2 separate regions of the Homo sapiens genome follow, and region 2 is linked to region 1. A link means that fine-mapping ties the variant in region 1 to the expression of a gene that starts in the linked region. Tissue or cell type: tibial artery. Region 1 holds a variant in brackets; the other region holds the start of a gene. All regions are shown on one strand. Distances are between the middles of the regions.

What was found. PIP is the estimated chance that this variant, and not a neighbour inherited with it, causes the effect.
Region 2: it holds the start of EPN2, and the variant in region 1 is fine-mapped to the expression of EPN2 in tibial artery (GTEx, PIP above 0.99).

What each region holds. Positions count from the first base shown.
Region 1 is chr17:19,298,790-19,304,539 of GRCh38, forward strand. The region is part of intron 4 of EPN2 (epsin 2); the gene reads left to right. It overlaps EPN2-AS1 (EPN2 antisense RNA 1), which reads right to left. Exons shown (of 3, transcript NR_048576.1): 2 at 5,026-5,149. Among named protein-coding and RNA genes, the nearest start is that of EPN2-AS1, 4.6 kb to the right of the region's middle. RefSeq lists an enhancer at 5,407-5,606. The variant T/C (reference allele first, on the strand shown) is at 2,460.
Region 2 is chr17:19,234,188-19,239,937 of GRCh38, forward strand. It overlaps EPN2 (epsin 2), which reads left to right and starts at 3,179. Exons shown (of 11, transcript NM_014964.5): 1 at 3,179-3,344. RefSeq lists a silencer at 3,087-3,556.

The sequences.
Region 1 (5,750 bases):
TGCTAATAATGTATGCACTTCACATACCAGCTTGCACACAAGAAATGCTCCAGAAGTGGCCCTGTCACTGTTAATTCTTATGATCAGACTTGTTTCAGATTTTCACCAGTGTAAATAATGCTGTGGTAAACTTCTTTGAACAGAAAGCTTGTTTTTTTCTTTTTTTAAGGATTCTTTGGATTATTTCTTCAATGTGGAATTCCCAGAAGTGAGATTAGTGGGAAAAGTGTATGAACATTCTGTTTCTTGAAGCATGACAAATGTTTTCCAAACAGACTGTTTCCAAACAAATGCTTTCCCCCCAGCAGTGAAGGAGAGTGCTCAATTGGGAGCCCCTGAGCCCACAGCAGGTGCTATAATTTTGTAATCGATTATTTCCAATTGAATAGATGAAAATTACTATCAGAATACTAATTTTAAAAATGAGTTTCCTGTTTATAAGTATTACTCTAAGAAATTGTTGCAGGCATTTAACTTCTTTGAAGTTTATGATTGAATTAAAAAAGAGATAAATGATTATCTTTGTTGAAGTGCCCGCTCACCTCAGCTGGCACTGCCTGGGCTTCAGAACCCCTCCTCCCACCCTGGCTTACGCCTGGAGAGCTGCGGGTGGCTCAGGGTGAGGCTGCAGGTCCTCTTTTCCTTACTGCTGGTCCCCAGCCATGATGAGACCCCTGCCCCAGCACTCTACCTAGAGAATGACAGGCTGTAGCTTTGTTACTTTCACTATGGACAGAAGCAGCAGGAAGCTCAGGGACTCCTGAGGTAAATGACAGTGAGAAAAAGCTGCTTAGTGTTTTGGCTAAGTCCTTCCTTTCCCACCCAACAAGCTGGTGCTCTTACTGTAGGAGAGAGTTTAATAACAGCCCGAAGAGAATGGCACAACTTGCTTTTTTCTGACTGAGGATGGGATTTGACTCATGCAGACAAATGAATGGACTGCCTTTTGTCTCTGCTTTACCCTCCTGCCTCTTTCACCAGCCCTGCATTGGGGCCATAACGTGGTCATTGTTGGGGCTCTCCCTTTTTTCACCTGGTATTTCAGCTTCCTCCTCTGTAAACTGAGGCAGCGGTACCAGTGTTGCAGAGGGGTAGTGGAGAAGTTAGAGCCATTATTTGTTTTCACCAGAAACTAAACTTGACCATTATCTGATGGGTGTTTGAGCACCTACTTTGTGCCAGAAGTAAAGCTGACGTGGCCCCTGCTTTCCGCCCACTTGGGCAGATGGCCGGCTGGAAGCAGTTGAACGGATTAGAACATGCAGCTACAGGTGATCAGGGCTGCAGCCTAGGTGCCACCTAGCTGCCCCATGGTTCCGTGGTGGGCAGGTCTATGCAAATCTACCCCCAATGTCCGGAGAAGCGGAGGGGCCAAGGAAGGAGGCTGACAAATCCAGTTTCTTAGAAAGAAACAGGGACTTAGGAGCAGAAGCCATGTTTCTCTCAGGAAGTGGTGAGACAAGGTGTCAGATCCCACGCCATTAGCCCCCAGAGCCAGGGCTTATATGCCATAGGGAAGGAGTGGTTCAGAAAGAATGTGTAGGATATTTGAAGTATGATAACATTAAGGTAGTTTGACCTAAAGATAGGATTTAAGGTAAGTATGTGCTCTTACATAAAAACAATAAACTGTAAATCTTTTTTTTTTTTTTTTTTTGGAGACAGAGTCGCTCTTGTTGCCCAAGCTGGAGTGCAGTGGTGCAATCTCGGCTCACTGCAGCCTCCGCCTCCTGGGTTCAGGCGATTCTCCTGCCTCAGCCTCCCAAGTAGCTGGGATTACAGGCGCCTGTCACCACGCCTGGCTAATTTTGTATTTTTAGTAGAGACGGGGTTTCTCCATGTTGGTCAGGCTGGTCTCGAACTCCTGACCTCAGGTGATCCATCCGCCTTGGCCTCCCAAAGTGCTGGGATTACAGGCATGAGCCACCGGCACCCGGCAAACTGTCAATCTTGGAGGCCTTCCTGGAACTGGGATTAATCAGAAGCCAGCATGGTGAATTAGCCTCCAAGATGGAGCTGCTTTGGCCTCCACATCCACCAAGTGCTCCCTGTGCGCCAAGGCCAGCTCCAGGTATCAAGGTGTTAAGTAACAAAACGGATGGACCCCCTGCCCTGTGGAGCTCCCAGTCTGATGAGAGACTGGCCTGATAACACAGCCAGGGGAGGCGCAGTGAGAAGGTGGCCTTAGAGCTGATACTTAGGGATGAGGATGCGGTTCTCCTTCCCATTCGAGGACCACGAGCAGCATACACAGTGTGAGGGAGCAGCGGGCAAGCAAAGGCTCGAGGCAGGAAGGAGCCTGCGTGGCAGGTGCTGGGGGAGGATGGGAAGCGAGCAGGGCCCAGTGTTACTTGGCTAGCTGCTGTGTCACCCCAGTCTCTGCCTCCATGGTCCCATGGCAGTCTCCCCTGGTGTGTCTGTGTTTCTATCTCTTCTAAGGACACTAGTTCTATTGACTC[T/C]AGGGCCCATCTTGCTCCAGTATGACCTCATCTTCACTAATTATATCTTCACTAATTACATCTGCAGCTACCCTGTTTACAAATAAGGTCATGTTCTTCATCCTACTTTACGGGGGACCCAGTTCTGCCCATAACCCCTGGTCAGAAGAAGGCACTGTAAGTGCTGAGTCCACACCATGTGGCAGCATGACACACTAGCTGATTCAGGAACCAGGTGTCATACATAGGATCCCAATTAAATGTGTCCAGACTCTGGCCACTTCTCATCCCCTTCATAGCTACTTTTCTGGCCCAAGTTCCCTAGACCAGTCAAGTGGCATCACTGCCCCACTTAAGACTCTCCAAAGCACCTCTGACGGCTTCTGAACCCCCACCACTCTTTGGTCATGTGCCCTTGGGTGCCTCTGCTGACACTAGCCTCAGAGCCTGTCCCCTGCTCTCAGAACAGAAGTGCCCCTGCCCTTTTGCCGTTCCTTCCAGGGCTCTGTGCCATCGCCTCCTGTCAGAGCATAGCTGAGCAAGCTCTCCTCTTCCCCACCCTGCCCTGCCCTGTCCCTCCTTTTTAGATTTGTTTATGGTCTCTCCTTACTAGAACACAAGCTCATGGGAACAGGGACTTTCCTCAGGCCTAGAGGAGGCCCTGCTTGGTGTGGGTGTGCGCATGTAACTGACTGAGGGTGCAAAGCCCCTTTAGGGTGCTAGGAGCAAGCGTGGGGCATAGGTCCTGAGTCTTGGCTCTGAGTTCTCATCCTGCCCCTGGGCGGCTGTGAGCCGCAGCCATTTACCCTCTCTGGGCCCCGGTGTCCTCATCAGTGGGAAGGGTTGGTAATGAAGAGCCAGACCTTCAGGGTCAGACTCCACCTGCCCCAGCTGGGTGGCCTTGGGACAGTCACTGCACCCCTAGGCCTCAGCCTGGACTGTAAGTGGGGCAGCACCCCCTTATGGATGGAGGGTTCCTCGAGAGACAGTGTTGCACAGGCAGTGGGTGATTTTCACATCGCTTCTTGTTCGTTCCCCACAACAACCCTGGGAGACGGTTTCCCGTCCCCATTCTGCAGATGAGAAAACAGGCACTGAGAAGGTAATCACCTAGGCCAGGGGTCCCCAACCTCCGGGCCACAGACCCAAAGCTTCATCTGTATTTATAGCCGCTCCCCATCACTTGCATTACTGTCTGAGCTCCACCTCCTGTCAAATCAGCAGTGGCATTAGATTCTCATAGGAGCGCAAACCTTATTGTGAACTGCACATGTGAGGGATCTAGGTTGTATGCTCCTTATGAGAATCTAATGCCTGATGGTCAGTGTTTCCCATCACCCCCAGATGGAACTGTGTAGTTGCAAGGAAACAAGCTCAGGGCTCCCACTGATTCTATATTATGGTGAGTTGTAGAATTATTTCATTCTATATTACAATGTAATAATAATAGAAATAAAGTGCACAATAAATGTAATGTGCTTGAATCATCCTGAAACCATCCCCGACCCCACCCCTGGCCGTGGAAAAATTGTCTTCCACTAAACCAGTGTCTGGTGCCAGAAAGGTTGGGGACAGCTGACCTAGGCCAAGGTCATGCATTAAGAAGTGGCAGAGCCCAGATCTGAGCCCAGGCATGGACTTGAGGGCCCGTGCTCTCGTCTGCCACACTGGGCTGCTCTCTCAGGCTGATGACACTCGGCCTGGGGTCAGGCCCAGGTGGGAGAAGCACATAGGGCAGGGAGGAAGAGTTCCCTCTGGGCGAGTGTCAGAGACGGAAGCGCACTACAGGCATCCACACACAGAGTGTGCGTTCAGTCGCTTTCCTGGGTGGAAGCACAAGAAAATGTGAACAGCTGTTTCCTCTGGGGAGAGCAGTGGGGCAGGATGAGAGGAGTAGCTCTCACTTCCTTTTATGCTGAAATATTTAAGAATAAGTTGTGGGTATCCTCACATTACTCCCCTAAATGCTTCAGTACACATCTCTTCCTGGAGAGTCACACAGCCACTGTCACACACACAGTCACACACCTCACAAAATGGGAAATTAGCAGCATCATCTCACGCTGAGGTCATGGTCACATTTTTCAAGTTGTCTGAAAGTGTCTTGCTGCTGATCAGCCTAATGTGAGTCCACCCCAGGACCCCAGGCTGAGTCTGGCCATCCTGTCCCTGCAGTCTGTGTCATGGCAGCACGTTCTCCATTTCTCCGGGCCAGCCTTCCTTCGGGATGTCTGTCCCTGGCCTGGATCTGTCTGCTGCCTCTCACCATGCTCAGCCTGGCCCTCACCCTGAGCTTCCTGAGAACCGGAATCACGGCTAGAGTCTGGATTCTGTGCACATCAGCGTTTTGCTGGGACTGTCATAGATGGGGGTATGACGTCACCTGACAGGCAGCCCTCCCACCACCGATAGTGCCAGCGTTGGCCACAGCACAAAATAACTTTGTGGTTTGTCCCTGTGTTGTAAAGTCACATCCACCTTGTGGCTGGACAGTGATCTGGCTGTGGTCATGCTTCATTGCATTTTTCATTATACACCTTTTTGTCTTTTGCATCACATATATATATATGTTCCTGTTAAATATTACCTGGTGTAGTCCGGGTGGGGTGGCTCACGCCTGTAATCCCAGCAGTTTGGGAGGCCGAGGCAGGCAGATCACGAGGTTAGGAGTTCAAGACCAGCCTGGCCAACATAGTGAAATCCCGTCTCTCCTAAAAATACAAAAATTAGCTGGATGTGGTGGTGCGTGCCTGTAGTCCCAGCTACTCAGGAGGCTGAGGCAGGAGAATCGCTTGAACTCGGGAGGTGGAGGTTGAAGTGATCTGAGACCACTCCATTGCACTCCAGTCTAGGTGACAGAGTGAGACTCCGTCTCAAAAAATAAATAAATAAATAACCTGGTGTAATCTGAACTTAACTTTTTTATAATTTGCCTCGTTAGACTAAAAGCAGCCTTCCCAGCATCTCCCTGCGAGGAGGTAAAGTAAGGGCCTTGGAGGCTCTCCTGTGTTGAGAAGTGGCAGGAACGTCCTCAGTAGCCAAGGTCATTGCTGATTCAGGAAGTGGCCCCTGGAACCACAGGATGATGTCACCACATTGAGGAAGCGTTTCACTGCTGTTCAGTAACAAGGAAGGAACTTAGCTGAACTAGAGAACTGGCCACTGGACAGTGGACGCTGACCCTGTGCTCAGTGCTGGCTCCCTAGCCCCTCCCTCGAAGTAGGTCAGCCCAGCAGAAAGCAACCCCAGGCCTGTTCCTCGGAGGCCTGGGAAGGGCCACGCTTTCTGTGTGTGACGTGGAGGGTGGGGTGT
Region 2 (5,750 bases), 65 kb before region 1:
TGTTTCTGGATTGCCAACACAAGTTTCTTTTTGTGGGACAAATAGTTTTGAATATAGAGTTCAAGCCTTTGGTGAAGATCCCGGGGAGCCTGTTCTGCACCTGTGCTAAGTGATTCTTTTCATTCAGCATGCAGTCTGTCCCTGTCTGCTGCCTGCCAGTCTTTCCCCCAAAGTCCCTTCCTGCTTGAAACCCTCCTTCCCTAACCCCAGAGACACCCCTGGCCTGCACTGCCAGCTCTTTCTTCTGAAATACACCTCTCCAACCGGCCCCCATCAGTCTGCTCCATTATCCACCTGGAACCAACCTCCAAACCTCTGCAAGGGCAGATGAGAGTGTCTCCTCCAGCCCTGTTTTCCATGGACTGCTTTGGGCACGGATGAAATTGTTCAGCTTATCCTGCAAGTTCCTCTGCAAGACTGCTTATGTGCTCTAGACTCATAGAACCTGGAATTGAATCCTAGCCCTGCCACATGCTGCCTCAGTTTCCGCATCTAAAATAGGAATAGGGCTGCTGACGTCAAGGGATCATCATGAGGATGAATTGAGAGAGGAATGCCAGGGGGCTGATACGCTTCAAGGAGGGGGTCCAGGAAAGAGAAATGACTTTGAGGAATGCAAGAATGTCCCCTCTGACCTTGCACGTGGCGGTCTTCCGGCCTCAGGACACCCTCCTCCACTTCCCAAGCCTGGGCTAATCTGGTATTCTCCAACTCACTTCCTGTCCTGTAGGTTAGCTCATCATCTCATTATCTGTATCCAGTTCTCTTTCCAGGCTTGCATATTATCTGTGCGGCTACACACACTTGCTAGGTGGGTAGTGAAGGGAGTATTAGGCTCTGCATATGGAAAAGTGGGCCTGGGTGGCCAAGCCCCAGCATATCTCCAAACCTCAATTTCTTGTCTGTAAAATGTGAACAGCAAGAATGTGCACCTTGCTGGGCACGGTGGCTCACACCTGTAATCCCAACACTTTGGGAGGCTGAGGCGGGAGGATCACGAGGTCAGGAGTTCGAGACCAGCCTGGCCAACATGGTGAAACCCTGTCTCTACTAAAAATACAAAAATTAGCCAGGTGTGGGGGTGCGGGCCTGTAATCCCAGCCACGTGGGAGGCTGAGGCAGGAGAATCACTTGAACCTGGGAGATGGAGGTTGCAGTGAGCTGAGATTGTGCCATTGCATTTCAGCCTGGGCAATAGAGTGAGACTCCGTCTCAAAACAAATAAATAAAAAAAGAATGTGCACTTGTGGAATTGTGGTAAGGTTTTAGACCAGCACTGGTCAGCATGGTAGCATCTAGCCACATATGGCTATTTACATTTAAATTAATAAAAGTTTAATGAAGTTTAAAAAATTCAGCCCCTCAGTCTCACTAGCCACATTTCAAGTGCTCGCTGGCCTCCTGTGACTCGTAGCTATCCTACGGACAGCACGCAGAAAGAACATTTCCATCGTGGAGGGAAATTCTGCTGAACAGTGCTGATTTAGAAGCATCACGCCCGTGCTGTGCATCAGCTCTGTGTTATAACTCATCTGACATTGTAAACTCAGGGCAGAAGCATGATTGCAGTGTAAAGTTCTGCTTTCCTTGGAGATGGGGTAAAGAGGTGAGGCTCACAAGGAATGTTGGACTGGTTGAGGGCATTCTCTGGGATGAGGGTGGACCAAGTTCAAAACGGGGAGCTCCGGCTTCTGCTGCAAGGCAGGCACATAGGGCATAATTCCCTCTGCTGGTGGAGAAGGGGCACCAAGCAGTGGGAAGGGTGGTTAACTGGAGAGTGTTTCTAGCATCTAGAGCTACCAGTGTTTGACTTTTCAAAGGAAAAGTGGCTATGTGGTTTTGCAAACGTGTTACAAGCTCTCTCCATTTTTATCGTATTTATTGTATCACTAGCTAGACTAATAAAGAAAAAAGAGAAGATACAAGTAAACATAATCAGAAAGGGCAAAGAGGACATTACCACCGACCCCATACAAACACAAAAAAGCCCTCAAAAACTATTATGAACACGTCTATGCACACACACTAAAAAACTTACAATAAATAGATGAATTCCTGGAAAGATACAACCTTTTTTTTTTTTGCCAGAGAATGGAATTCCAGATCCTGGGTTGTTAGAACCTTAAGGGATACTTTCATCCCCTGGTTCCTGTACAGGGAGGAGGAATCTGAGGCTCAGAGAAGTACAGTGACTTGTTTAAGGTCCCTCAGTGAGTTAGGGCAGAGGAAGACTTCTGGCCACAGCTTCCCTGAAGCCAAGGCTAGGCAGAGTGTTGATGTCACCCAGGCAACAGGGATGGTGCCCTCTGCCCACCTAGCAAGCCCTGACTCATGCTCCGCGCCCCTGCTGTGAGAAGTCTCTGCTGACTCCCACCCTGATTGGAGCAGGTTAGTCAGCTTTGAGGTGCAGCCTCCAGTTCTGGCCCCTCCAGTTCCGGGACTCTCATTCGAGGCATTTGGGGCTGTCTCATTTCTGTGCCCAGCACAGGGCTTGGCACAGAGGAGGTGCTTTGTGGGTGCCCGCCAGTCAAGGGTTTCCGTTTTCGTGCCATGTAGGTAACCCCTTGCCATTCGTGCCCTTAGGTAACCCCTTGAGCAGCCTAAAGAAGCCTAGAGACTTCTCCGTTTTTGAGTATATTTTATTGACGTGAAATACACGCACGGAAAAGCGCACAAATCCAAAGTGTACTTCCGCGCATCTTCATAAAGTGAACACACTTGTAGCCTAAGAACCCAACCCTACCAGCGCCCGGCAGGCCCTGGCCCCCTTCCAGTCTCTCCTACTGAACAAGGTTTTTGAGTGAAACCGGCAGGCCGGAGCGTGAGTTTCTGCTTGACGGGGCGGGGTCTGCGCGTGCTGCCCGGCCGTGAGTGTGGGGGGGCCGTGAGTGTGTACGGGGTGGAGTGGCCTGAAGGGGATTAGAGTGCGCGCGTTCGGGTATTAATTTGCCAGGGTTTGTGTGGCGCTCGGGATTGGGGGTTTTTTGGGGGCTCGGGCGTCGACTGTGGGGCGCTGCGGAAGGGTGGGTCGTCCGCGTGGGGTCCTGGAGCGCAGGAGGCGGAGGGGAAGCCGCGCAGGGGCCACTAGGGAGGGGCTCTGGCGGGGTCGCAGGGGCGTGGTCTGCGGGCGTGGGGGCGGGACCTCGGGGCCTCGGGGGCGGGGCCTGAGGGCGCGCGCACGCGTCCGGCGCGCCCCCTCCCGGCCGCCATGTTGGCTGGTGTGTGGGTGTCAAACTGAGCCAGACGCGGCGGTGGCGGCGGCTCCGCGGGCTACGGTCGCTCCCGCCTCTCGAGCGCTGCCGGTGGCCGCAGCGGCGCACCCACGCCGGCCCGGAGGAGCAGAGGTGAGCCACAGCCCGTGGGGCTCCAAGGCCAGAGCGAGTCCCCGGGGCGAGGACCCTCCCCCTCTCCAGGGCGCGGACGCCCCCAGAGCACAGGCTCCCCTACCTCACCAGCCCCGCCAGGGCATGCGCCCCTGCCGCCCCGCTGGTCCCTACGCCAGGCTCTGGGGGATCCCCTTCTTTCCAACCAGGCCCCGCCCCACGGACTGGAGCATGGCCCCCTTCCCATCTGGATCCAGCTTTCCGCTGCAAGGATCTCCCCCCTTACCCGTCCCTATCACCGAGCATCTCCTTTTATGTCCCCAGAGTCCAGGGCGCCCCTTACTCCTACCTCGGATCCTGGAGCCCCGTTCATCTTGGAACAACCCCGCCCCCTCCCCAGAGCACGTTCCTCCTCTCCCCGAGCCCGGCGCCCCTTCCTCCTGAGCCCAGCCTGGTCTCCCGCCAGCCCCCGTGCAGAGCCCGGTCCGGGCGCCCTCCGGGAATCGGGGGAGGGGTCCTTATCTCTGTCCGGGATCCCGCCCGTCTCACCTTTCCTGGGGGCTGTAGCAGGGCCCCCTTCCGTCCTTGGGGACCAGGCTCCCCACTCCCCAGCCCCCACTCCCACGGAACAGCGGGGACGGGGGCGGAAGAGCCAGGCTCCAGCTGCCTTTTGTTCCGCGTGGGATGGCAGAGACCCACCCGGCCCGGCGGTCCTGCTCGGCTGATCCGGGTGGGTGAATGGGTGCGTGGGGTCTGGCCTCTTCCAGGAGAGACTTCCTCTCTCTCCCTGTGGGGCGGCTCCCCTAGAGCCGAGAGCCGAGCGCGTTGGGAGGCTGGCCTTTGCTAGAGGAGTCGGTGCCAACAGGTTTTTGTTTGCGACCTGAAGTTTGCCCAGTGGCTTTCCCTGGGGCAGCTTGAGCTCCCTGTGAATCCCCCCGCCGGAGCTTGTGGAAGGCCGTTTCTCCGCCCAAGGAGTCCGTCTGGGCGACTCCTTCACAGTTGTGCTTCCCTGGGGACGTATCTAAAATCTGTGCTTTAAGAGCGGAGAGGGCTTAACCATCATTAGGGTTCAGATGAGGGAAACTGAGGCCCAGAACTGCAGTAATTTGCCCAAGGTCACGCAGTGATACTGTGTCAGTGCAGAACTAGAAGCTAGGTCTCCAGGCTCTGTTTACCACATTTAATAACTTTTTTATCTTTTAGGGAGATGTTCAGGACCCTACCTTCCCCTTTATTTTTAATATTTATGCAAGAAAGTGGGCAGGAAAATATGAGAAGTAATGAGTTATTCCTTTTCACCTCCAGAAAATATCCTGTGAAAGAAGGGATTGGAACAGGGTGTTAAAATGATGGGAAAAGGTGAATTTTAAGAATCCAAGCTTCCTCTCATTATGTAATATAACGAAGATTTGGCAGAAAACGTGCCTCTTGTAGCTCTAGATACAGAATTTTAGGTGCTGACAAAATCTTATGCTGAATCTGGCACAGCAGTGATTGAGTTAGCATTGATAATTAAGTTTTCATCTGTATTTAAATGAACATCAAAAGGGACTACAATTTGCTTCTGAATGGTACTTGTTCGGTGCTTGTTTTTGGGACAAGTGATTGTGTTGGGGAAGCGCACCTAAACTTTTAAATTTTTTATTTATTTATTTTTTTGAGACGGAGTCTCTGTCACCCAGGCTAGAGTGCAGTGGCACGATCTCGGCTCACCGAAACCTCCGCCTCCTGGGTTCAAGCGATTCTCCTGCCTCAGCCTCCGGAGTAGCTGGGATTACAGGCGCACGCCATCCACCACGCCCGGCTAATCTTTGTATTTTTAGTAGAGACGGGATTTCGCCACGTTGGCCAGGCTGGTCTCGAACTCCTGACCTCATGTGATCCGCCCACCTCGGCCTCCCAAAGTGCTGGGATTACAGGCGTGAGCCAACACTCCCGGCCTAAATCTTTTATTTATCTGTATTTTTACTTTTACATTTTAAAAGCTTATTTATTTCCCTGGTTTTAAAATTGGGCTAGTCATCTTTACCAGTCTCACTGGGCTATTCTTTTGTAAGCAGGGAATGAGATACTGGTTATTAAAGATTTTGGTAAAGTGTAAGTTACTGTAAGGCATGATTCAGGACTGCGTCCCACAAGTCCCCGGACCAGGAGCCAGTTCGGATTGTCTTGTGGGATGTACCAAGTTTCCCTGGTTTACAGAGGCTTTTTGCCTCTCTGAAGCCTGAGCTGGCCAGATGGAGAGCTCTGTGGAAAACTTCCAGCAGTGTGTGTTGGGCCAAGCACTCGAGGTGTGAAGAAATGTAAAACTTTCAAGTGATAATATCTAGCATCGTGTATGCAGCCTTGAAAAATGACCCAACCTTTGTAGAAATTCTCTGTTATCACTAACCCTCTTCCATAATGAGCGGAGGATTTCCCAAGAAT